Homo sapiens: one gene and its partners. The protein of the gene in region 1 interacts with the protein of each later gene in a pairwise test. Each region holds a gene or a part of one and is shown in the gene's direction. Other genes may lie near its edges. The genes, in order: BRAP, NUMA1, CCDC30 and EFHC1.

Region 1 (7,034 bases):
CAGTTGGAGTTGACAATTCAGTTCAGTGACGGGGGGGACTTTTTTTTTTGAGGCAGGGTCTCTGTTGCCCAGGCTAGAGTGCAGTGGTGCAATGTCGGGTCATTACAACCTCAGCCTCCTGGGCTGAAGCAGTCTTCCTGCCTCAGCCTCCCAAGTAGCTGGGATTACAGATGCCCTCTACCACGCCTGGGTAATTTTTGTATTTTCAGTAGAGACAAGGTTTCTCCATGTTAGCCAGGCTGGTCTCATACTCCTGGTCTCAAGTGATCCACCTGCCTCGGCCTCCCAAAGTGCTGGAATTACAGGTGTGAGCCACCACACCCGGCTACCAGGGAGAATTTCTTACCACCTAGTTCAGTGGCAGATCATTAATGTGTCCAAATAAACATGTCGTGCCTTCCCCTGCTCTGCCAGCTCATTTTTTCTTTCTTTCTTTTCTTTTTTTTTTTTTTTTTTTTTGAGACAGTCTCACTTTGTCCCCAGGTGGGAGTGCAGTGGCATGATCTCGGCTTACTGCAACTCCACCTCCTGGTTTCAAGCAATTCTCCTTCCTCTCTCAGCCTCCCAAGTAGCTGGGACTACAGGTGCACGCTACTACACCCAGCTAATTTTTGTATTTTTGGTAGAGACAGGGTTTCACCATGTGAGCCAGGATGGTCTCAACCTCTTGACCTCCCAAAGTGCTGGGATTACAGGCATGAGCCACTGCACCCGGCCAGCCAGCTCATTTTATCTGCGGAAGTGGATGTGTAGATAGTACTACATCTCCAACATGGAGGTGGTCAGAACTGGTAGGTTTGGATTTCCACCTTAGTAGCCCTGAATGTTTGTCCCAGTTAGGATTTCGTGATAGAAGATACCTGCTTGCATTATGGTATTGCCAAATGTAATAGCCATCCTTAAGTTTCTGAGGGTGTTAATGAGATTTTTATGGAGCAAAGAGAGCTTTAAAGTATGATGCCCTCATAAACTCAGCTATTCTACAAATAATAGCTGTTAATGCATTACATTGTAATTACTCTATCAAAGTTTATTCCTCTGACTTGAAATTTTAATCTAGTTCAAATCCTTCAGCATATGTCCTATCCATTTATAATCTGCTATTTTTTAACTGGTGAAAGATGAACTAAAAACTACAGTGGAAGAAAGGAAGTCTTCAGAAGCCTCCCCCACTGCGCAAAGAAGTAAAGATCACAGTAAGGAATGCATAAACGCTGCCCCAGATTCTCCGTCCAAACAGCTTCCAGACCAGATTTCATTCTTCAGTGGAAATCCATCAGTTGAAATAGTTCATGGTATTATGCACCTATATAAGACAAAGTAAGAAAACCCTCTTTTCTTGGGGGTTAGTCAATTTTTTTTTTTTTTTTTTTGCTTTGCTTTAGCATAGTCTCTTGTCCTGAAGGAAAGTGGGTATTTTAAGCTTCAAAATAATAATACTTTTGTCTGTTGTATGTTAGAGAATTCTCAGATGTTTTACATTTGATTAATCTTGTGGATTGGGTCAAAGCTTTTCCTTATAAAAGAAATGCTTGTGGATACACTTAAGAGAATATGTGGGAAAAATGTTTTCTTTTTTTTTTTTTGAAATGGAGTTTCGGTCTCGTTGCCCAGGCTGGAGTGCAATGGCGCGATCTCAGATCACTGCATCTTCTGCCTCCTGAGTTCAAGTGATTCTCCTTCCTCAGCCTCCCAAGTAGCTGGGATTACAGGTGCCCACCACCACACCTAGCTAATTTTTTGTATTTTTAGTAGAGATGGGGTTTCACCCTGTTGGCCAGGCTGGTCTTGAACTCCGACCTCAGGTTATCCGCCCGCCTCAGCCTCCCAAAGTGCTGGGATTACAGGCGTGAGCCACTGCGCCCTGCCAGGAAAATGTTTTCTTAGCAGATAGGCATGGAAGGTGATGGGGAATTGAAAGGACAAAGAAAATGATCCACAGCATCTTTGTAGTCTCATGTCCCCACCAAATCTTTACTGAAGAGGCTGCTAAGAAGTCAGTTAACTCATTACAATTTTATTACCTCTTTTTTACCATTTTCTGTGGTTCAAACAAAGCTTGCTAGAGCCCCAAGGAAAGGAAGCATTTGGCTAGATAATCCACAAGCCCAGCCACTACCTTCTTGGGTAATGGTAGCTGATACCTTAAGGCTGTTCTTGTGCTAACTCATTTGCCAGATCTCTACTGGGAAAACAGTGACTATTCAGGTAGCCATTTTGTTTTTTGTTTTGTTTTTTGTTTTGTTTTTTGTTTTGTTTTTTTTTGAGACAGGGTCTCACTCCATAACTCAGGCTGGAGTGCAGTGGTGCAATCCTGGCTCACTGCAACCTCCCCTCCCGGGTTCAAGCAATTCTCCTGCCTCAGAGTAGCTGGGACCACAGGTGCACACCACCACGCCCAGTTAATTTTTTTTTTTTTTTTGGCAGAGATGGGGTTTCATCATGTTGGCTAGGCTGGTCTCGAACTCCTAACCTCAAGTGATCAGCCCACCTCAGCCTCCCAAAGTGTTGGGATTACAGGTGTGAGTCACTGCACCCGGCACAGGTAGCCATTCTGGATCACAGCTGTCAAGTGAGTTTGCAGCATTTCAAAAAACAAATTGCATTGTGGGAGGATTTTCTTTCCTCTCTATTCCAGCCATCTCAACTTGGTAACACTTCCTGTAATCCTCAGTTACATCCTCATGGTTTAGAATTCTCTCTTGCCGGGCGTGGTGGCTCACGCCTGTAATCCCAGTACTTTGGGAGGCCGAGGCGGGGGATCACGAGGTCAGGAGTTCGAAACCAGCCTGGCCAACATAGTGAAACCCCATCTCTACTAAAAATACAAAAATTAGCCCGGCGTGGTGGCACGCGTCTGTAATCCCAGCTACTTGGGAGGCTGAGCAGGAGAATTGCTTGAACCCAGGAGTCAGAGGTTGCAGTGAGCCGAGACCATGCAGCAAGACTCTGAAAAAAAAAAAGACAGAATTCTCTCGTATATTTAGAGCTGTTTTTTTAGGCCTTTTAAGAGAGGTCCATAGCCAGAGTTGTGCTTTTAAGTTAACCAGTGACAGATTTTTTTTTTTTTTTTTTTTTTTGAGATGGAGTCTTGCTCTGTGGCCCAGGCTGGAGTGCAATGGCGCGATATTGGCTCACTGCAAGCTCTGCCTCCCAGGTTCACACCATTCTCCTGCCTCAGCCTCCCAAGTAGCTGGGACTACAAGCACCTGCCACCATGCCCGGCTAATTTTTTTTGTATTTTTAGTAGAGATGGGGTTTCACCGTGTTAGCCAGGATGGTCTCGATCTCCTGACCTCGTGATCCACCCGCCTCGGCCTGCCAAAGTGCTGGGATTACGAGCATGAGCTACTGTGCCTGGCCACCAGTGACAGATTATTATTCAAACATTGATGAGAGTAAAACACTGCAAATTTACCGAATGCAGATTTATAACCGTAATAAATGTTGAACTGAAGATTAAAAAGTCCAATGGGGGGTATAATATAGAACAGTTCATTAATGAAATATTACAATTTTTATTTTTTCCTGTTTTCTTGGACATAAAAGTTGTCTAGTATTGTTTAAACTAACCATACCTCATCTATTCAAGACACTCTAATTTTTTTTTTGTTAGTAAGATGACCTCCTTAAAAGAAGATGTGCGGCGCAGTGCCATGCTGTGTATTCTCACAGTCCCTGCTGCAATGACCAGTCATGACCTTATGAAGTTTGTTGCCCCATTTAACGAAGTAATTGAACAAATGAAAATTATCAGAGACTCTACTCCCAACCAATATATGGTGCTGATAAAGTTTCGTGCACAGGTAAAAGTTATTAAATTTATTAAAAATCTCTTTGCCACAGAAACTGTGGTATTCAAACTGTATGATAGCTGTGTGTGATTTACAACATTTTGCACTTAAGATTCTTGAGATGTCTTCTAAGATATAATTGTAATTCTAGATGTATTTCTAAATTCATTAGCAGAAATACAATTATAACGTATACACTTTTTTTTTTTTCGGTAGAGATGAGATCTTGCTGTGTTTTCCAGGCTACTCTTGGCCTCAAGCAATCCTCCTGCCTTGGCCTCCCAAAGTGCTAGGATTACAGATGCTCTGAGCCACTGCACCTGGCCTCATGCCCATGATTTTTTATAGATCAGATTGAGTATGAAGTTTAGGGTTTTGCAAGGAGGCAGAGGTTGCAGAAAGCTGACATCACACCACTGCACTCCAGCCTGGGTGGCAAGAGTGAGACTCCGTCTCAAAAAAAAAAAAAAAAAAAATCTAGTGTGTTTTTTTGTTTGTTTCTTTTTGAGACGAATTCTCGCTCTGTCGCCCAGGCTGGAGTGCAGTGGTGTGGTATCGGCTCACTGCAACCTCCGCCTCCCGGGTTCAAGCGATTTTCCTGCCTCAACCTCCTGAGTAGCTGGGACTACAGGCATGCACCACCATGCCTGGCTAATTTTTGTATTTTTAGTGCAGACAGAGTTTCACTATGTTGGCCAGGCTGGTCTCGAACTCCTGACCTTGTGATCCACCCGCCTCAGTCTCCCAAAGTGCTAGGATTACAGGCGTGAGCCATCATGCCCGGCCTGTTTGTTTTTTTAAACAAGCGGTAACTATTCCAGAAAAGCGGTGGTTCCCAGACTTTTTGAAGTTAACACCATCTTATTATTTTTCCATTACCCCCACTTCTTTCATTTTTTTTTTTTTTTTTTTTGAGACGGAGTTTCACTCTTGTTGCCCAGGCTGGAGTGCAATGGCACGATCTCAGCTCACAGCAACCTCCACCTCCTGGGTTCAAGCCATTCTGCCTCAGCCTCCGGAGTAGCTGGGATTATAGGCATGCACCACCATGCCTGGCTAATTTTGTATTTTCAGTAGAGGCGGAGTTTCTCCATGTTGGTCAGGCTGGTCTCAAACTCTGGACCTCAGGTGATCTGCCCGCCCCAGCCTCCCAAAGTGCTGGGATTACAGGCGTGAGCGACTGCACCCGGCCTCATTCTCTTTTTAGTGGGGGAAGAGTGTACCTGTTCTGTGATCTCCAGAGAGAAGCTTTAGTGTGGAGTTCTGTCTGCAAGAGAGTACACAGTTATTATGTTTTCTGTTTACAAAGTACCCCATCATTTAGGGAGACATTTAAAAGGTTTCAATTATCCTTTGGATTTAAAGTTTACAAGTTGACATTAAGAACAGAAAAGCACTTGAATAGCTCCTTTCACTGTCCATCAGAAAGCCTTCCAAGGGTGCCAAGGAGCTTTGCAAACCATGGGAAAATCGTGCCTTAAGCCATTTCAGTCTGGTAGCACATGTAATAATAAGGATAATGATGATAATATCCAACGTTTATCGATGGCTTCTGTATCACTCACTGTGCTAAGTGTTCAATACACTTTGTCTCATTTAATCCTCACTACAATCCCTTGCGGAAACTGTGTTGTTATCTTTGTTTTACAGATGAGGAGGGTGACTGCAGAGGGAGATACATGGTTTGCCCAAGGTTACATAGCTAGACATAAATGACAAGCAAGAGTGTGGCACCCTCACTTTTAATTCCAGGGACGCGTTCCTCTTCTAGTAGGAGTGGGATGAAGGTGTGGGGAAGGGAGGCGGTTGTTTGTGAGACATTCTATGACAGCAGTATTGTTACAGTTTCTACTTAACAACTAGGGCAATAAGCAAGTAACAAAGGAAAAGACCCAGAAATAGATTGGGAAAAAAATGTTGAAGAGCACTCAGGCTTTTGAAATAGTCTGAAGTCGTATAAATCCACCACAGTCACCTGTTTAATAAACCCACACAGTTCCCTATAACAAGTACTGCCCTTCATAATGTGCAGGTAGTACTGTGGATATTTACTGTGAATGAATTTTCCTTGTACATCTGCACTATCCTTCCCCTTGTGTCTTTTGATCAAGTGAAGGTTGCTCAAGTTGACATGTTTTTCTGAGACTGCGAAACAGGTTGCTGCATGCTCTTCCCCATGGGGCTAGAACCCTTTATCTTGGTATCATGAGTTGTATTATTTATTGCTAACTCTGGGTCTTAGGGGCTAATCCCTATCATCCTAACAGGGATTTTCTAATACCTAATAATACCCTCTTGGTGTAAGACTGGAAGTTAAACTAATATCGGCTGTAGTGAGAATAATAGGCTCAGTAGCTACCAACTCTGAAGCACTTACTAGAGACCGGACCCTGTGCCAAGTGCTTTCCATGCATTGTCTCCTTGAATCCTCTCAACGATGCCATGTTGGCCAGGTGCAGTGCCTCATGCCTTTAATCCCAGCACTTTGGGAGAGACCAAGGTGGGCGGAACACTTGAGGGCAGTGGTTTGAGACCAGCCTGGCCAACATGGTAAAAGCTTATGTCTACTAAAAATATAAAACTTAGCTGGATGTGGTGGCGCACGCCTGTAATCTCAGCCACTTGAAAGGCTGAGGCAGGAGAAACTATTGAACCTGGGATGTGGAGGTTGCAGTGAGTCAAGATCACACCACTGTACTCCAGCCTGGGCAACAGAGCGAGACTCTGTCTCAAAAAAAAAAATGCCATGTATTTTACAGTTGAGGAAACAGGCACAGATAAGTCACTTGCCTGCAGCCAAACAGCTAGTAGGTGTCAGAGTTAGGGTTCAAACCTAGGCAGCCTGACTCCATAGCCTGGGCACCTAACTATGTTTTTATTCTTTTCCTCACCACAGATTTTTAAATAAGGACTTATAAGCCTTCTCTTTATCTTTGGTAATTTTTGAATTTCTGTTGGCCTTAGCTTTAGCTGAAAGAGTTGTGAGGCCAGGTGTGGTGGCTCATGTCTGTAATCCCAACACCTTGGGAGGCCAAGACAGGAGTATTGCTTAAGGCCAGGGGTTCAAGACCAGCCTGGGCAACATGGCAAGATCCTGTTTCTTAAAAATTTTTTTTAAAAGATCAAAAAAAAAGGGGGGGTGTGCTTACCAATTTGTAGTGTGACCCTTAGGAAACTTGGTCTTTGGGTAGAGAATTTACAGTTCTTCAGGACATAGGAAAAGCAGAAGGAAGTTCAATT
Region 2 (7,034 bases), on another chromosome or scaffold:
AACAGTCACTTCACTTGTGGTCAGGAGTTAAGTCAGTCAGGAACTCTGACTTCGGTACATCTTGAGGGGAGGTGGGAGGGAAGGGGACAAGTGGGGTGAACATATCTCTAGTTGAATGTTGTTGGCTGGGTCATAGGACCTCAGCTCTGAGAGGGAGAATGGGATCCAGCAGGCTCCTAGGGCATGAGGGAGCCGGGGACTGGCACTGCCAGGGTGGAGCTCCTGGCAGCCATCCCTTCAGAGGCCTAACACCTAAGTGATGCTCTTTTTCTCCCTGTGGCCCAGGCTGAGTTGGCTGTCATTCTTAAATTTGTGCTGGACCATGAGGACGGGCTAAACCTTAATGAGGACCTAGAGAACTTCCTACAGAAAGGTAAGTAGGTACACACTCCTGAGAATCCCCTCATCTCTGAAATGGGGAATACTAGGATCCTGAGTTGTCAAGTATGGTGGGGGTTTGTTTCTGTCCCCAACACAAGGCAGAGTTGATGCTCAGGAAAAGTGTGTGTAATGGAGTAGGTCGATTTCTGGGCCATGTTGTATCATCTCAGTTCCTATGGAGCTCCTCCTTGCTGCCTGGCAGCAGTTATGTAGGATATTTACAAGTGATCATACCTACTTTTGTTTTTTATTTTTTAAACAATCATTACTCTAGGCTTAGAAGCTGAGAATACAGTCTTTTTATTTTTATTTTTATTTTTTTTTGAGACAGAGTCTCTCTCTGTCGCCCAGGCTGGAGTGTAGTGGTGCGATCTCAGCTCACTGCAATCTCCACTTCCCGTGTTCAAGCAATTCTCCTGCTTAGCCTCCCGAGTAGCTGGGATTACAGGCGCATGCCACCACACCTGGCTAATTTTTGTATTTTTTGTAGAGACGGGGTTTCACCATGTTGATTAGGCTGGTCTCGAACTCCTGACATCAGGTGATCCACCTGCCTCGGCCTCCCAAAGTGTTAGGAATACAGGCATGAGCCACTGCGCCCGGCCCACAGTCTTTTAAAAAATGTTTTTCCCGTCATGTAGTGCATGTTCTAGGTGGAAAGGCAGATACATAAACCAGGAAATAATGATAAGGAATCTAAGTACGGAATATATCAATGGCCTCGGCTGGTACTACAGTAGAAAGAGTGATCGTTCTGCTGGTCTTCTGATGAAGAGGTCAGCTGGTGGATGATAGGAATGTAAGAAGGAGGTCTAGGCGAGTTCTAGCCGTTGAGTTTGATGTTCCTTGTATTCAGGTTCCTCATGAGACCTTCAGGTGGAGATGTTAGAAATGTGAGTCCAGAATTCAGGAGCAGGCTCTGGACCAGAAGATAGGTTTGCAAGTCAGCATTGGATGGCCACTGAAGCCGTGGGCACTATGGGCAGAGCCAAGAGGCCCCATCAGATCTCTGGGAGCTTAGAGGGTGGGTAGAGGAGGGAGGAGCAGATGAGGAGACTTAAGAATGGGTGATTAGAGGTAGGAGAGTCCTACAAAAGGGGTCACGGAAACCACGGAAAGAGAAGGGTTTTGAGGAGGAGGGCATTTTGGAGGTGCAAGGCTTCAGGGGGGATGAATTCCAAATGGTGGCCAATGGCTCTGATAGGAAAGGTTGTTGGGGGCTGCAAGGAGATCCTGCTCAGGGCTCCCCAAGCCGTCTCTGCAGTGTGGACTCGAGGAAAAAGCTTGAGCACTTGGTGCAGTTTCTGAGCCAGAGGACACCGTCACTCCACTGTGCTCTGAGTAATGATGCTCTGTAGAAATGGAAGCCCTGCACTTCATTTTGGTTAGAGACACGGAACTCTGGATAACCCAGGCACCAGGTTTCAGGTTCTGCCCAGTGCCTTCCTTGGTAGTTTACATATAAGTATCCATGGATATACTCCCACTAAGGCGAGTTCTCAAATTGCATAAAGGTGCAAATCTTTACACCTTCTTACTAACCTTTGTTGATTTATTTTGTCTATTTCTTACCCCCAGCTCCTGTGCCTTCTACCTGTTCTAGCACATTCCCTGAAGAGCTCTCCCCACCTAGCCACCAGGCCAAGAGGGAGATTCGCTTCCTAGAGCTACAGAAGGTTGCCTCCTCTTCCAGTGGGAACAAGTATGTTCTGGGCCTCTCCTCCTGGGATAGGGCCTCAGCATCCATCCATTCCTCACATTCCTAACTTCTAGAGTTAAGATGTTAACCAGCCTCTGGGAGTGCTTAGAGTATCCGGTAGATCTGGGATCTCCTCACCTCACCCAGTATTAACTGGGGGAAGTGGTTGGGATTTGTCATGTGCAGAAGGCCTCCCTCAAAAGCTGTTCCCTGTTTATGGAATACCCTTCTTCCTCGGAGACTACAATGAAGTCTCTTCTCTTAGCACATCTCTGCAGAGCCAAGGAGAATATATCACTTTTTTTTTTTCTGACAAAGAAATTAAGGCAGTGAGAAGAAAAGTTTTCCCAAGATCATGTCATGAGGCTTGAGGTAGCACTGCAAACAACCCAGGTGCACAGGCCTCCCAGCTGCTAGTGCGCACTTCCATAGACCCCGCTCCCTTACTGCTGCCTGTTGCTGATTGCTTCAGATCTTAGGCGCTTACCAATGCATATGGGCCTTCTCCCTCCTCAGCTTTCTCTCAGGTTCTCCAGCTTCTCCCATGGGTGATATCCTGCAGACCCCACAGTTCCAGATGAGACGGCTGAAGAAGCAGCTTGCTGATGAGAGAAGTAATAGGGATGAGCTGGAGCTGGAGCTAGCTGAGAACCGCAAGCTCCTCACCGAGAAGGGTAGGTGGCTGGCACACTGGCAGATGTGTGAATAGACTTGCCGGAAGGATGTCCCCTGGCCTCCCATGTTGTCCCCTCTGCTGGCCCCTGGAGCTGAGAGCTCAGCCCTGGGCCTGTGGTCAGGCTGACCTCCTGGAAGCTAGGTTCTGTCTTTGTCCCCATCTTCTCTTTCCCTTAGATTGGATACCATATTCCTCCTCTTCCCTATGCCGTCTCCTCCCTTCCCCTTGTGCACATAGTTCTGTGCACATAGTTCCGCTCATGCACATAGTTCTGATTCTCCTCTCCTCCTCCCTCCACTCTGGGCAGATGCACAGATAGCCATGATGCAGCAGCGCATTGACCGCCTAGCCCTGCTGAATGAGAAGCAGGCGGCCAGCCCACTGGAGCCCAAGGAGCTTGAGGAGCTGCGTGACAAGAATGAGAGGTACAGCTCTCCCTGCATTCCTTCCCAGGCCCCAGCCCCTCCCCTCACCCAGCCAGGAACCCATACTCTCTTCTCACTGCTTCCCTCCCTCGCAGCCTTACCATGCGGCTGCATGAAACCCTGAAGCAGTGCCAGGACCTGAAGACAGAGAAGAGCCAGATGGATCGCAAAATCAACCAGCTTTCGGAGGAGAATGGAGACCTTTCCTTTAAGGTGGGTGTTAAGGTGGTGTGTGCATGGAGGCCCCTCAGGGCTGAGGTGGTCTGGAAGGCTCCCCAAGAGAGGGTTGAGAAGAATGTCCCAGCACCTGTCTTATGCTTCAGTCTCTCCAGAGACCTGCATATTTTGCCCCTTTCCTTATCCCATAATTGGCGGCTTCCCGGGTACTGGGCTGTGACCCTAAATGTTGATTTGTAGTTCTGAATTAGAGGTGTGATGGCTGTGATTGGTTTGTAGAGGGTTGGCAGGATAATTGGAGGCATCCAGCCCCTGGGGTTCTGGGAGCAGACAGCAGTGGTGGGGTCAGCGTTGACTCTGGGTGATGGGGATTCTCACTTGCCCGTCTCAGCTGCGGGAGTTTGCCAGTCATCTGCAGCAGCTACAGGATGCCCTCAATGAGCTGACGGAGGAGCACAGCAAGGCCACTCAGGAGTGGCTAGAGAAGCAGGCCCAGCTGGAGAAGGAGCTCAGCGCAGCCCTGCAGGACAAGGTAACCCTCTGCTGGGGTCACAGCCACAGTCTTGACCACATGTGCAAAGCTGAGTCCAGTTTACCACTGTGCTCTTCTGGGCCTTTGGGTATTAAGTTGCTTTCTCTTCAAGGTTCAATAGTGTGCTGTAATTGAAAGATTGTGGGCTTCAGTCTAGTACACCTTTTTTTTTTAACTTATTTTTTTTTTCCCCAGTCAATGCCCTCACTTTATAGTACACCTTTCAATCCTATCTCTGCTGTTCACAAGATGTGGATCTTGGACAAGTTAATCAGTCTGTTTTTCTAAGCATCCTTTCCCTAAAATGGGAGTAGTAACGAGTAGCTGCCTCATCACCTATTATGAGAAAACGTATGTAAAGCACTTCACACATCGTGTAGTGTAAAGTAAGCTCTCAGTGAACCAGTTGTGATTGTTACTATTGGTAAGAACCCAATTTGGCCACTTACTAATAACCATGTAGCCCTTGATCAAGGCACTTAGCATCTGCTTCAGGTTCTTGCTCTGTAAGAGGAATGGTAGTAGCTGCCTCCCACATAAGCTGGGTGTGGTGATGCATGCCTGTAGTCCCAGCTACTCGGGAGGCTGAGACAGAAGAAGCTCTCGAATCTGGGAGGTGGAGGTTGCAGTAAGCCAAGATCTCGCCACTGCACTCCAGCCTAGGCGATAGAGCGAGACTCTGTCTCAAAAAAAAAAAAAAAAAAAAAAAAATTAGGGATGAACCCAGCATAGCCTATTGTAGGTGCTTAGTGAACAGTGGTGAAGAAGTGGGTTTGGGACTGGGGGTTGCTGCAGCTGCTGCCAGTGGTATTGCTGCCCAGAGGATGGTGGGCAGCTGGTGGTGATTTGGATAATCTAGGACTCAAGACTTATCTGAGGAAGGGTATACGGTAAGGAAATTTGAAGTAAACTCAGCAGCCTTGGGGAAGTAGTAAGCAGGTTACATTATGACTTTATTGTGCCTTAGAACTAGGTCTAGAGAATCAGGTCCCTCATGCTCCCAGTTCCATGGTTTCTGCTTTTTTCTAGGCCAGGGCAAAAGGAGATCTTGGTAACAAGATGATGGGCCCCATGTTTGCTGATGTTTATGAGGGCTTGTGTGGTAATCTGGTGCCTGTTCCCCCTCTCTGTTCACATGGGTCTCATTTACTCCCAGAAATGCCTTGAAGAGAAGAACGAAATCCTTCAGGGAAAACTTTCACAGCTGGAAGAACACTTGTCCCAGCTGCAGGATAACCCACCCCAGGAGAAGGGCGAGGTGCTGGGTGATGTCTTGCAGGTAGGAATGCACAGAAAGACCTGTGTGCTGCTGGTTGGTGTGGACTCACATTCAGTACATTTGGGTTCCTGGTGTTCCTCCATTTCCAGAGGAGTCTTGATGACTGAGGAGTCATGCTGATCCCAGTTTGTCTCTTTATACCACCAGCTGGAAACCTTGAAGCAAGAGGCAGCCACTCTTGCTGCAAACAACACACAGCTCCAAGCCAGGGTAGAGATGCTGGAGACTGAGCGAGGCCAGCAGGAAGCCAAGCTGCTTGCTGAGCGGGGCCACTTCGAAGAAGAAAAGCAGCAGCTGTCTAGCCTGATCACTGACCTGCAGAGCTCCATCTCCAACCTCAGCCAGGCCAAGGAAGAGCTGGAGCAGGCCTCCCAGGCTCATGGGGCCCGGTTGACTGCCCAGGTGGCCTCTCTGACCTCTGAGCTCACCACACTCAATGCCACCATCCAGCAACAGGATCAAGAACTGGCTGGCCTGAAGCAGCAGGCCAAAGAGAAGCAGGCCCAGCTAGCACAGACCCTCCAACAGCAAGAACAGGCCTCCCAGGGCCTCCGCCACCAGGTGGAGCAGCTAAGCAGTAGCCTGAAGCAGAAGGAGCAGCAGTTGAAGGAGGTAGCGGAGAAGCAGGAGGCAACTAGGCAGGACCATGCCCAGCAACTGGCCACTGCTGCAGAGGAGCGAGAGGCCTCCTTAAGGGAGCGGGATGCGGCTCTCAAGCAGCTGGAGGCACTGGAGAAGGAGAAGGCTGCCAAGCTGGAGATTCTGCAGCAGCAACTTCAGGTGGCTAATGAAGCCCGGGACAGTGCCCAGACCTCAGTGACACAGGCCCAGCGGGAGAAGGCAGAGCTGAGCCGGAAGGTGGAGGAACTCCAGGCCTGTGTTGAGACAGCCCGCCAGGAACAGCATGAGGCCCAGGCCCAGGTTGCAGAGCTAGAGTTGCAGCTGCGGTCTGAGCAGCAAAAAGCAACTGAGAAAGAAAGGGTGGCCCAGGAGAAGGACCAGCTCCAGGAGCAGCTCCAGGCCCTCAAAGAGTCCTTGAAGGTCACCAAGGGCAGCCTTGAAGAGGAGAAGCGCAGGGCTGCAGATGCCCTGGAAGAGCAGCAGCGTTGTATCTCTGAGCTGAAGGCAGAGACCCGAAGCCTGGTGGAGCAGCATAAGCGGGAACGAAAGGAGCTGGAAGAAGAGAGGGCTGGGCGCAAGGGGCTGGAGGCTCGATTACAGCAGCTTGGGGAGGCCCATCAGGCTGAGACTGAAGTCCTGCGGCGGGAGCTGGCAGAGGCCATGGCTGCCCAGCACACAGCTGAGAGTGAGTGTGAGCAGCTCGTCAAAGAAGTAGCTGCCTGGCGTGAGCGGTATGAGGATAGCCAGCAAGAGGAGGCACAGTATGGCGCCATGTTCCAGGAACAGCTGATGACTTTGAAGGAGGAATGTGAGAAGGCCCGCCAGGAGCTGCAGGAGGCAAAGGAGAAGGTGGCAGGCATAGAATCCCACAGCGAGCTCCAGATAAGCCGGCAGCAGAACGAACTAGCTGAGCTCCATGCCAACCTGGCCAGAGCACTCCAGCAGGTCCAAGAGAAGGAAGTCAGGGCCCAGAAGCTTGCAGATGACCTCTCCACTCTGCAGGAAAAGATGGCTGCCACCAGCAAAGAGGTGGCCCGCTTGGAGACCTTGGTGCGCAAGGCAGGTGAGCAGCAGGAAACAGCCTCCCGGGAGTTAGTCAAGGAGCCTGCGAGGGCAGGAGACAGACAGCCCGAGTGGCTGGAAGAGCAACAGGGACGCCAGTTCTGCAGCACACAGGCAGCGCTGCAGGCTATGGAGCGGGAGGCAGAGCAGATGGGCAATGAGCTGGAACGGCTGCGGGCCGC
Region 3 (7,034 bases), on another chromosome or scaffold:
GTGCTATGGCGTAAGATAGGGTCCTGGCCCCTGCAATGCAGTTGGAGAGTACCTACCAGGAGAAAAAACAAGGAGACTGCACCCATTCTCCTTGTCCTCTTCTCGTTTAAAATTCTTTGTCTCAGTTTGCTTTACCACCTTATTCTTTACATCTAGAAGTTTTTGGAGGCCTAAACCTACTTCAGGATGCACTTCTTTCCAGAGATTGGATTTTTAAGAGATTTAATGAGCATTTACTTAGTATCTACTTTGGACAGAATAGTTTTTTTGTTGTTGTTGTTTTGTTTTGTTTTTTTTTTTTGAGATGGAGCCTTGCTCTGTCGCCCAGGCTGGAGTGCAGTGTTGAGATCTCGGCTCACTGCAGCCTCTGCCTCCCGGGTTCCAGCGATTCTCCTGCCTCAGCCTCCTGGGTAGCTGGGATTACAGGCACCCGCCACCATGCCCGGCTAATTTTTGTATTTTTAGTAGAGATGAGGTTTCCCCATGTTGGCCAGGCCAGTCTTGAACTCCTGACCTCAGGTGATCCATCTGCCTCGGCCTCCCAAAGTGCTGGGATTACAGGCATGAGCCTCTGCGCCCGGCCAAGAATAGTATTCTTATGTACTTTGTTGTGTGGGCAATTTTAGGTACAGTTTAGATGTCAGAGCATTTATAATTTAGTTTTATTACTTCAAGATCTAGTTTACTAGAATTTAAAAGTTAATCATCAGGTCTCAATAAATCCACTGGGAAAATGTTTGTTTGGGGATCTCATAGCACCATTCCAGGTAGAGTGACCTGAATGTCAAAATTTGTGGAAATATAAGCAGCATGATAGGGACCAATAAGTATACTGACATGAATGGCTAATGTCAAGGTGCGGCAGAAGACAAGGCTAGAGAGACTGGGAGGAACCAGATTGTGAAGAATATCTGGTCCCAAGCTAAAGGGTTTGAACTCTACATGAAAGCAACAAGAAGGTTAAGCAGCAAGTGATTTGCATTCAGGAGGATCAGTCTGGAGTTTTGCTGAGAATGGATTGGATGAGGGCCAGCCTGGCAGCAGGAACATCAGTTAAGGTTGCTATTATACTAAATTGAACAAATAGTAGGCAAGCCTAAACTAAGGCAGTAACCCTAGACATGGAGAGGATGAATTAGAAAATGATGAAAGAAGTACTGCAAATTCAGTGACTGGTTGCATACCAGAGTAGAATGAATAGGAAGGAGGATCAAGGATGACTCCTGGGTTTCTGGCTTGGGAAACTATGTTGACAGTGATTTTAACTATGAAATAGAGAAGGAGGAGGGAAAGATGAATGGGTTGTTCAAGCTGAGTTGTTCACTAGAAAACTGGACACGCATTGGTCTTAAACAGTAGACTCATTTTATATTGCCCTCTTAGCTTATAGCCTCTTCTCTGGAACTTGGATCTGTCTGCCAAATCTTGCTTAAAGAGTAGGCCCTCAGAGGCCATATTTGTACCTCTACTTCCAACCCATTCCATGTACAACTGACTGAATGGGGAAAATACAGGTAACTTTGGAGAGGGGGACACAGCCTATTTGGTGAGCAACAAACAATTGTCTCTTTCAAAAATTTGAACTAAGAGATACAAAGATAGAAATGGCTTAATCTAAAAAGTCACATTCGCTAAGGACTTGAATAGTTCTTTTCAGCCTTGCTGATGAGCAAGCAGAGGAAGTTTTTCTCTGTAGAGAAGCAAGAGGAGCAAACTCGCAGGGAAGCTCAGAGACAGAAGACCTCATGGGTCAGGAGAGACTGTTAATGGCTGTGTAGTTCTGTATCCAATTCCTGTGTAGCCACATTTAGTTTCCAGCATATGTCCTTGTACCTCATCCACTCAATAACCCTCATATAGTAGTTGGGATTAGCTGGTTGTGTGAGGGACAGAAAGCCCAAAATAATAATGCGTTGAAAAAGAAAGAAATGTATTCCTCCCACATAAAAGTCAAAAATAAAACAATCTATAACTGGTGGGGCAGCACCTTGAAATGGTCAGAGACCCAGATTTCTTCTCTCCTGATATTATAGCATCCATGGCATGTGGTTTCCAGCTTATGGTGCCCAGGATAGCTGCTCAAGCTTCAGCTATCTTGTCTGAATTCCAGCTAGTAGAAAGGAGTAAGGAGCAAGAAAGGGGGCATCACATTCCTTAAGGACAGTTTCTGGAAGCACCACATAATTCCATTTACACCCATTGGTCAGAACTTGGTCACCTGGCTGTATCTATCAGTAAGGAAGTCAGTCTTGTGATCAGTCAAAACACTAAATATCTTATTTCTGTGGAAGAAGGGAATAGTAAATATTAAAGGACACCAGCAGTCTCTGCCACACTCACCTGTATTTGTTCCAACTTCAATGTGTTTCTGTTTCTTGCCACTTCTTCTAGATTGATCTGGAGCATAGCAGAGAGAGATTCTTATTTAATCTTTCAAACAACAGAGTGAGGTAGGCATTACTATTACATTTATTCTACAGACAGAATAAAAATTTAAAGAAGTTACCTGACTTGTGTAAGTCACACAATTACAAAGTAGCGAAGCCAAGGTTTGAGCCAAGGTATATTAGACTCCTGTGCCCAAGCTATTAATCACATGGTAGTGAGAAGGGCAGAGAGCTAAAGGCAGGGTTTTCCTGGAAATGGCAGCATTTGAAGGGATGGAAGAGGAGGAACCCAGGAAGCATACTGAGAAGGAAAGGCTAGAGACATAGGAGTCAAAACAGGAGAAAGTGACATCACAGAACAGAATTAAAAAAAAAAAAACTTTCAGGGAAGGAGTGAAGACGTACAGCAAAGAGATCATATGTTAAAACAAACAAAAACAGGGCCAGACACAGTGGCTCACGCCTGTAATCCCAGCACTTTGAGAGGCTGAAATGGGAGGATCACTTGAGCCCCGGTGTTCAATTCCAGCCTGGGCAACATATAAGACCCTCGTCTCTAAAAAAATAATTTTAAAAATAAGATGGGCATGTTGGCACATTTCTGTAGTCCTAGCTCCTCATGAGGCTGAGTCAGGAGGATCACTAGAGCGCAGGAGTTTGAAACTGTAGTGAGCTATGGATATGGCATTTTGAGTTCATTGTTGACTGATAATTTGAGTACAATGGTAAGAGCAGAAGGCAAAATGCAGCAAGTGTAAGAGTGTGGAAGCCAAGCACAGAAGCCACAGTATAGGAGTGTGGGAGACAAATTGTCCAAAACAGGACAGTAGCTAGAGAGGTATATGGTGGGGCTAAAGGAAGGTTATTTCTTGTATCTTTAAGACCAGAGATGTCTTGAGCTGAGGACAAGAGAACAGTAGAAAAGGAGATAAGGAACATACAGAAAAGAAAATGCTTCCCTAAGGAAGCAGTATGGGATGGGGCCTAGAATACAGGTAAAGGGATTAACCTTGATCAGGAGGATGGGAAGCTCTTCCACTGAGAAGGGAAAGAGGACAAGATTGGTAAAGATGAAGGTTGGTATGTTGATGAGGAGAAGCAACTGACTGTTTTATGATGACCTTTGTTTTACTAGTTCTCTGGGAGACAAGGTCATTTGCCAAGAGTGAGGGGAGAGATGAGATATTCAGTTTGATGGGAGAGGTAAAAGTTTTGAATAGTTGCTGAGTGAAATAGTAACAGAAACTAGCAACTCATAAATGACCCAGCGGTTGAGAAGCTTGGCTCAGACCAGAGGCCATGAATTTGTAATGGTTCAGATTTGCATGCCTGTTTGATTTTGTTCTCTATCGGCACTCAGCAACCTAAAATAGGTGGATAATAGTCAAATGCATGAACTTTTACAGGGCTGAGATTTGCAAGGAAGGTGGGACAAAGGGGTAAGATAACTGGGGATGTTGGTGAAGGATTGAAATGATCAACAGTTGGGTTTAGGCTTGAGGGGCAAACAAGTGAAGCCAAAGAGTATCTGGTAGTTTGAGAGAGGATGTAATGGTCCAGAGATTGGAGGTCTCACTGTAATTGTAGAATTCTTTTAGTTTAAGAGAGCAACTGCTTCACACCCATTAGGATGGCTATTTTTTTTTTAAAGTAACCCAAAGTAAGTGTTGACAAGGATGTGAAGATATTAAGACCTGCATTGCTGGTAGGAACGTAAAATGGTGCAGCTGCAGTAGAAGACAGTAGGACAGTTCCTCAAAAAAAAAGTTAAACATAGAATTATATATCTAACAATTCCACTCCTACGTATATACCCCAAAGAATTGAAAACAGGGATTCAAATACTTTTACACCAGTGTTCATAGCAGCATCATTCACAATAGTTGAAAGGTGGAAACAACTCCAATGTCCATCAACAGGTGAATGTATAAATAAAATGTGCTATGTACATACAATGGAATATTATTCAATCTTAAATGAAATTATGATTAGCGATACAACATGGATGAATCTTGAAGACATTATGCTGCATGAAATAAGCCAATACAAAAGGACAAATATTGTATGATTCCATTTCTATGAGTTGTATAAAATAGGCAGGTTTATAGAGACAGAAAGTAGAATAGAGATTCCCAGGGCCTGGGGGTGAGGGGAATGAGAAGTTATTGTTTAATGGGTATAGAGTTTCTGTTTGGCATAATGAAAAATTTCTGGAAATGATTGTGGTGATGGTTAGACAACATTGTGATTGTACTTCATCCCATGGAATTTTATTAAAAATGGTTAAAATGGTAAATTTTAAGTTATGTATATTTACAACAATTAAGAAAAAGGGGGAAGAAGCATAGAAGGTGTTAGAGGGAGACACATGGAGTTTAGGATGGCAGGGTTTCAACATTAGCTCAGGCTGTTGATAAGGACTCAGGTGTAGCCATGAGGATGGGCAGCTAAATAAAATGTGCATAAAGATCACTGGCTTTGGGAGAATGGTCAAGTGAAGGAGCTTGGGTGATTTGTGCACTTGAGTATTGACCTGAAGCCTGTACCGTCCTACTGATCAGCAAGGATCAGATCCAAAGGTATTTTCCAATATCCTGATCCCCTTTTCCTTTTAACATCCTCCAACCTTAGACTCCCCTACTCCACCCCTACAGCATGGGGATTATGCTGTTGGGCAAGCAACCCACAGTACAGGACTTATAATAATTTAAGCATTTATTTTCTAATTACCTCATCAGTTTATCACAACTGCTTTTAGCACTTTGAGGTATTTGCTTCCAGTCTTTTCTTTGTGTGTCTGGTGTTTACATAGTTATAATAATACTTTTGCATTGTGCTTTTTCTCTTAGCATTATCACATATTTCTTAGCATTTTTCCATATTGCCAAATAGTCCTCATAGGATGCTATGTATTCTTAGTATCTTGGGCTCTCTGCTACCCAGGACTAAAACCACAAATAACTGTATGATGCTCAAAGACCTTGTAGGGAGAAGGGGGAAGATATGAGTGGGGACCAGGTGAAGGAGGTCGGGGGAACAGAAGAAAATTTTTAGTTATATGTCATGAAGAGGACCTACAGAGGTGCAGGATTCAGACTTGGGTGTTTTTCATCAGTATGAGTATCAGCTGATAATTAAAACCATTTATCATCTATAAATACTGTTGATGTGGAAATGGTAAGACTCTAGAAAACTTAGCAATCAAGGAGAAAAATAATAAAAATATGGTTTTGCTTTTAAAAAGCAAAATAGTATATTTATGTGGACTGAAGTACAATAACAATTATGTCTGTCACTGCAATTTGGGTCAGATTAACTTGGTTAAAAGTTGTATTTGATTAGAACAGCAAGTCCTATTAATAGTTAGTGGTTTTAATCACTTGAGGTCAGGAGTTCGAGACGAGCCTGACCAACATGGTGAAACCTCGTCTCTACTAAAAATACAAAAATTAGCCAGGTGTGGTGGCACACACCTGTAATCCCAGCTACTCAGGAGGCTGAGGCAGGAGAATCACTTGAACCCAGGAGGCAGAGGTACAGTGAGCTGAGATCACACCACTGCACTCCAGCCTGGGCAACAGAGGTAGACTCCATCTCAAAGAAAAAAAAATAGTTAGTGGCTCTAGTAACACAGATATCACTTCATCGATCAGCAGATATTTATCTTTCATATACTGTCATACTGCAAACTGTTATGTCATGATTACTTGCAACCTAAAAAAATTGATATTGATAGCAGGCTTAGACCAAGAAGTTGCAGAAAAGAACTGAATTAATGAGAAGTCAACATAAATTATAAGACATATTCTGTGAGTAAAATAAATCCTGGATAGTATAGAATTAGGGGCCTCTCTAGCTTCCAGAGGAATCCTTTTATTTCTAAATATGCAATAAAAGGAACAAAGACTTCTTTGGACTTTAAAAAAGAAACAAGAGCCCTTTGGGAGACTTTTCAGATAAAAGTTGCAAACTTTAGAACAGACAGAAAAGCTTTTTTTTTTTCCATTGTACATAATTTTCATTAAGTATATCATGTCATTTGTTATTTTAGAAGATACACAGTTGTTCAAAGCTTACATTTTTCGGTATTACCAGCTGTTTCATTTAAGTGCTCATAACTAGATAACAACAGGAAAAGTAAAATATACATTGTAGAGAGTCTGACTCTAGTCATATATACATAGACTTCTTTATTCCTGCTTTCAGTTTTCCTCACATAGCAGCTTTGTATGTGTATTGCCAGCTATATTTTGTTCTTTAGAAATATCTTGGATTTTCCAAGATATATATACATACACATACATAAGTGTGATGAAGGTTCAGGTAGCTTACTAGCTTTCTATTGCTAGTACCCTAAAGACTAGTACTCTAATAAGGAGACTAAGGTGGCACCCACATAGATATCTTGCATCCTCAGTTGTGTGTGTGTGTGTGTTCATATACATATGCTTATTTCTTCTATCAAGGGAAAAGTTCAGTTAGAAGACATACTTCACCATCTTGAAAAAGAAGAAATCAATCCCCTTGCTACTACAGAAGAACAACTCTGTTTGGTGCTTATTCCAGCCAGCACAGTGAAGACAGGCTGAGGACTGCTACCACAGATGTAGAAGAGCTTATAGTGAAGCACATGGGTGAAACAAAAGA
Region 4 (4,391 bases), on another chromosome or scaffold:
GTGTGAGCAATTTCTTATAACTCTCTCTTTCTCTCTCTCTACATATATATATATATATATATTTTATATGTACACATTCATACACACACACGCTTATATGTATACATATAGTATGTATATGTGTATATATATTATGTATATACATATATGTGCACACATCTCTACTAAAAATAGAAAAATTAGCCAGGTGTGGTGGCGTGTGCCTGTAGTCCCAGCCACTCGGGAGGCTTAAATGGGAGAATCACTTGAACCCTGGAGGCAGAGGTTGCAGTGAGCCAAGACCACGCCACTGCACTCCATCCAGCCTGGGTGACAGAGCAAGACTCCATCTCAAAAAAAAAAAGGTTAGAAAAATGCTGCTTTTAGAGAGCCTGGCCTTGAGAGAGGAAGGAAAGACTAGTTGCAGTTACTATTCTCTGGTGAGCTCTGACTGGCTTTTTACAAACAGGGCTTCTCTTTGGTTGAAGTCAGCCACTAAGTTCATCTTTAAACATGCTATCTCAAATTCCCCGAAGCCACCCAAAATGTGGTATGAATGAGGATAGAGTTACACAGAATTCAGACTGCTTTGCCCTCTCAGAACTTCTAGGGAACTTCCCTTGGTGTTTCCTTCCCTAACGAGCTCAGCCACTTGTAACCAGCTTATTGAAAGGGCTGTGAATGTATTATGTTGATTCCTTTTCTGTTCCAGGTTATTATCTTGGGAATAACCCATGTTTTGTTTTGTTTTACCCTCAGTCGCTCATAACTATTTAAAACAGTATCTCTTTCAAGTACAGATGCTCCTCTACTTATGGGGCTATGTCTCAATAAACTCACGTAAGTAAAAAATATCACAAGTTGAAAACACATTTAATAACCCTGATAAGCCCATTGTAAAGTAGGCAAATAAGTTGGACCATTGAAAGTTGGGGACTATCTGTATTTTAGAAGTTTTTTCAGCTTAAAAATTACCAAGCTCTATCCTACTTGGCCCAGCTCAGTCCTTCCCCCAGGCTTAGAAGCCTGTGGTAAAGAGTGTGTGTATACTGGGGTGATGATAGTGGTTTCTTCTTACTCCCTTCTTTCTGTCTTCTGCTCCCTTTGTTCCTATTCAGCCATGCTGCTGTTTCTAGCCCATGTAGGCTCTGGGAAAGGTTAAGCGGGTAGAAACCAGAGAAAAAGGGCAAAGTCTTATTTCTGTGGCTAGTAATGTCGTAATGTGGGGCCAGGTCTGAGTGACATGTGCCGAAAGGCTGACTCTTTCTCCCAGAGCACCTTTTCTCTCTTTTTGGATTCAGGGGGTACATGTGCAGGTTTGTTACATGAGTATATTGCACCCAGGTAGTGAGCATAGTGCCCAGTAAGTAGTTTTTCCACACATACCCCCTCCTTCCCTTCCCACTCTGGTAGTCCCCAGTGTCTATTGTTCCCATCATTATGTCTATGTGTATTCAATGTTTAGCTCCCACTTAGAAGTAAGAACATGCAATATTTGGTTTCCTATTCCTGCATCAATTCACTTTAGGATAATGGCCTCCAGCTGCATCCATGTTGCTGCAGAATACATGATTTCATTTTTTATGGCTGCGTAGTATTCCATGGTGTAGATATACTTCATTTAAAAAATCTAATCCACCATTGATTGGCACCTAGGTTGATTCCATGTCCTTTGCTCAGAGCCCCGTTTTGGTGAGTTCTTAGAACTCTTTCCAACCGGAAACTGCCCAGTGCACCACTCTCAGATGGACGGGACCCAGTCTGTACCTGATCACCCCGGCTCTAATGGTATGGTCTCCAAGGCTCCTTCTGATCTTCCCAGGAGGCCCTTTCAGGCTGACACACCTTCCAGGGTGTGCACTCTCGCCATGTTCTCACCCAGATGGCTCTCTTGGCTGTGTAATTAGGCAGCTCAATCCCTTTCCTTTAGACTGTTTCAGGGGAGAACCAGGTACCCCAAATCTTATGCTCTCCAAACTCCAGGGGACAGACACATGTCAAACCCTGAGTCTTTTAAAGTATACCCTCACTTAGCTTGCAGACCCAAGGCACTCCAGCCCCTTTCAAGAAGCTTGCACTTTCTGATATTTTCTCCATCACTCTTGCCTCCTGTGGTAGAGGAGCTTTGGGCTACTCCTTAACAAATCATTCATGGATCGGCAGCAAATCTGCAACATATGGATATATTTGCCAATTTTTGTCCTCAGCTTTGGGTCTCAGCCAAAATGGAGATTTAGGAAAGTCTCATTTAGCATCCTCTAGCCTGCTTTTGGCTGTTTTGTTTTGTTTTTGTGTTTGTTTTTTAGAGACAGGGTCTTACTCTGTTGCCAGACTGGAATGCGGTGGTGTGACCATAGCTCACTGCAGCCTCAAACTCCTGGGCTCATGCAATCCTCCTGCCTCAGCCTTCTGAGTAGCTAGGCCTGTAGTCTCAGAGGGAACTGTCTTCAATAAAGTTGGCACTGTCCACATACACTCCTTAAGTTTGCTGTCCACTTCTTGCCTTGCATCTCCTTTTAAGTTTACTTAAGACTGAGAAGCTGAGATCTGACAGCACCAACACAAGGTATAAAAGAGATTTCATGAAAGACCAAAGCCAGCAGGCCATTTCTGTGGTGTCCAAACACTCGCTGCTCACCTGTTTATACAAAGCAGCAAGTATAGGAGCCACAAACGTCAGAGCAAATCACTTTTTCTACTAAAATCCTGAATGGCAGTGCAGCCATTAGATGTCACTAATTACCTTATGCTACAGTCATAGCTGGCATGCATCTGGAGTGTCAGGTTCAGGTGGTGGAAGGGAGCTGAGCATTACCCTGTAGCAAGCAATATTGTAGGAAGCAGAAATGATCATCACTTCAAACTGGCCACCAGGGAGTTGAAAGATTCTAATACACACACACACCCACACACACACACACACAAAGAGAGAATGAGAATTATTAAGATTAGCACTGGTAGCTGAAGCTATCAGGTCTAACTGAAGCATTTGACTAAGACTGCTTATAGTGCTTACGGCTTTGGGACTAATAAAAATCTGCCTTGCGGGTAAAGATGGGCTGTGAGTTAGCCACTACTCAGAAACCTGGGCCTGTACCTTGTCTGCACCATCAGGGGGCCTTGAAAATACCATCCAATTAAGGTGTATCAAATCCATATCTATAGGCTTTGAGGGTATTTGGGACACATAGGTAGAGAAGACGTCTCTAAATGTTGTCCAGAGAATCCACTTGGTTAAGTGACTCCTGAGTATCCTGCTGGCACATAAGTTCATTTTAAAAAGCCAATATGAGTGCTTTATATGTACCATGAACTTAGCATTCAGTATCTCTAAATCTCTCACCATGACTCCCCACAAAACATGAAACCCTTTTGACACAGATGCACAAAAAGACTCGGAAGGGTTAACTGCTTGAGTTCACCTAGCTTCTCATGGCAGAGCAGGACCCAACTCTACAATGAAGCTTGCCATGCATCAGAACCACTCACCTTCACCTCAAGCAAACATTTCCTCTTTCTCACACCCCATGGGTGTCCTTGACTAACTGCCACCTGTAACTGCACTCATCTTTTGAGATCTTTTTCCAAAGAAAGATGGTTCTGGTAAACACAGCAAGCAGCTACAGCCAACAGCAGCCATGTAAGTGACACCAGCAATCCCCACTATTACTAATACTTGGATGTCTTCTAGTCAGCACCAACATATTTGTTGGCCTTTACACAAACGAAACCCCATTTCCTCCAAGCTAAATAACATCATAGTATAGTAGGCATCAAGGATGATGTGCTTGTTTCTGGAGCTTCCTACCCACAAACCCCATGTTAAGAAAACCTCTTTTCCACTTTACTATTAAAGAGTCAAATAAAAATGATGCTTATTGCTATCCAGCACTTGACATAACTGACTCTCCATCCTTAATTCCCTAATTCATATCACAATGGACAAATACGGGTCAAAATATATAAGAAATGACTAATATAGTGAAAAATAATAGACATGAGGGCTAAAATTCATTGCAAACTCCTTTAAGCAAACGTAAACATCCACGTTAAAAGCATCACTGTATAAAAGCACGTCAAGGAAATAATTATGAGACAATTCTGATAATTTTCTGCCTTTTATTGTTATTTCAGAAAATATTTGATCATTTGTTCCAAAATGTACATTTAAAAAATCCATACAAAACTGTAATTTGTTTTAAAACCAGACAGAAACAGTGGAAAAATGATTTTGAAAAAAAGTTCACCAAAAGCAAAAAGACACCCCTCCCCCCAACCCTTTTTTACATGAAAGCATAAATACGGCAGGTACAAATTTTCCTTGAGTTCCTTGTTGAAATTTGGTCCATATGAACAGGCTAGAGTAGAAAACAGACACTTTGTCCACATTTGCATTATCAGTTGCTCAGGGC

The links.
Region 2: the proteins of BRAP (region 1) and NUMA1 interact in a two-hybrid assay, tested with the Homo sapiens proteins (2 studies listed by BioGRID and IntAct).
Region 3: the proteins of BRAP (region 1) and CCDC30 interact in a two-hybrid assay, tested with the Homo sapiens proteins (one study listed by BioGRID and IntAct).
Region 4: the proteins of BRAP (region 1) and EFHC1 interact in binary tests that used the Homo sapiens proteins (3 or more experiments, as listed by UniProt).

What each region holds. Positions count from the first base shown.
Region 1 is NC_000012.12:111,675,923-111,682,956, reverse strand, and holds part of BRAP (BRCA1-associated protein), read left to right. Parts: intron 1-1,121; coding exon 1,122-1,320; intron 1,321-3,616; coding exon 3,617-3,806; intron 3,807-7,034. UniProt on the Homo sapiens protein: Negatively regulates MAP kinase activation by limiting the formation of Raf/MEK complexes probably by inactivation of the KSR1 scaffold protein.
Region 2 is NC_000011.10:72,014,543-72,021,576, reverse strand, and holds part of NUMA1 (nuclear mitotic apparatus protein 1), read left to right. Parts: intron 1-285; coding exon 286-373; intron 374-657; exon of another isoform or gene 658-1,251; intron 1,252-1,959; coding exon 1,960-2,083; intron 2,084-2,567; exon of another isoform or gene 2,568-2,596; coding exon 2,597-2,754; intron 2,755-3,063; coding exon 3,064-3,181; intron 3,182-3,276; coding exon 3,277-3,394; exon of another isoform or gene 3,395-3,749; coding exon 3,750-3,890; exon of another isoform or gene 3,891-4,218; intron 4,219-4,689; exon of another isoform or gene 4,690-5,046; coding exon 5,047-5,169; exon of another isoform or gene 5,170-5,316; coding exon 5,317-7,034. UniProt on the Homo sapiens protein: Microtubule (MT)-binding protein that plays a role in the formation and maintenance of the spindle poles and the alignement and the segregation of chromosomes during mitotic cell division.
Region 3 is NC_000001.11:42,466,269-42,473,302, forward strand, and holds part of CCDC30 (coiled-coil domain-containing protein 30), read left to right. Parts: intron 1-6,853; coding exon of another isoform or gene 6,854-6,976; exon of another isoform or gene 6,977-7,034.
Region 4 is NC_000006.12:52,493,324-52,497,714, forward strand, and holds the end of EFHC1 (EF-hand domain-containing protein 1), read left to right. Parts: 3' UTR 1-3,875; downstream 3,876-4,391. UniProt on the Homo sapiens protein: Microtubule inner protein (MIP) part of the dynein-decorated doublet microtubules (DMTs) in cilia axoneme, which is required for motile cilia beating.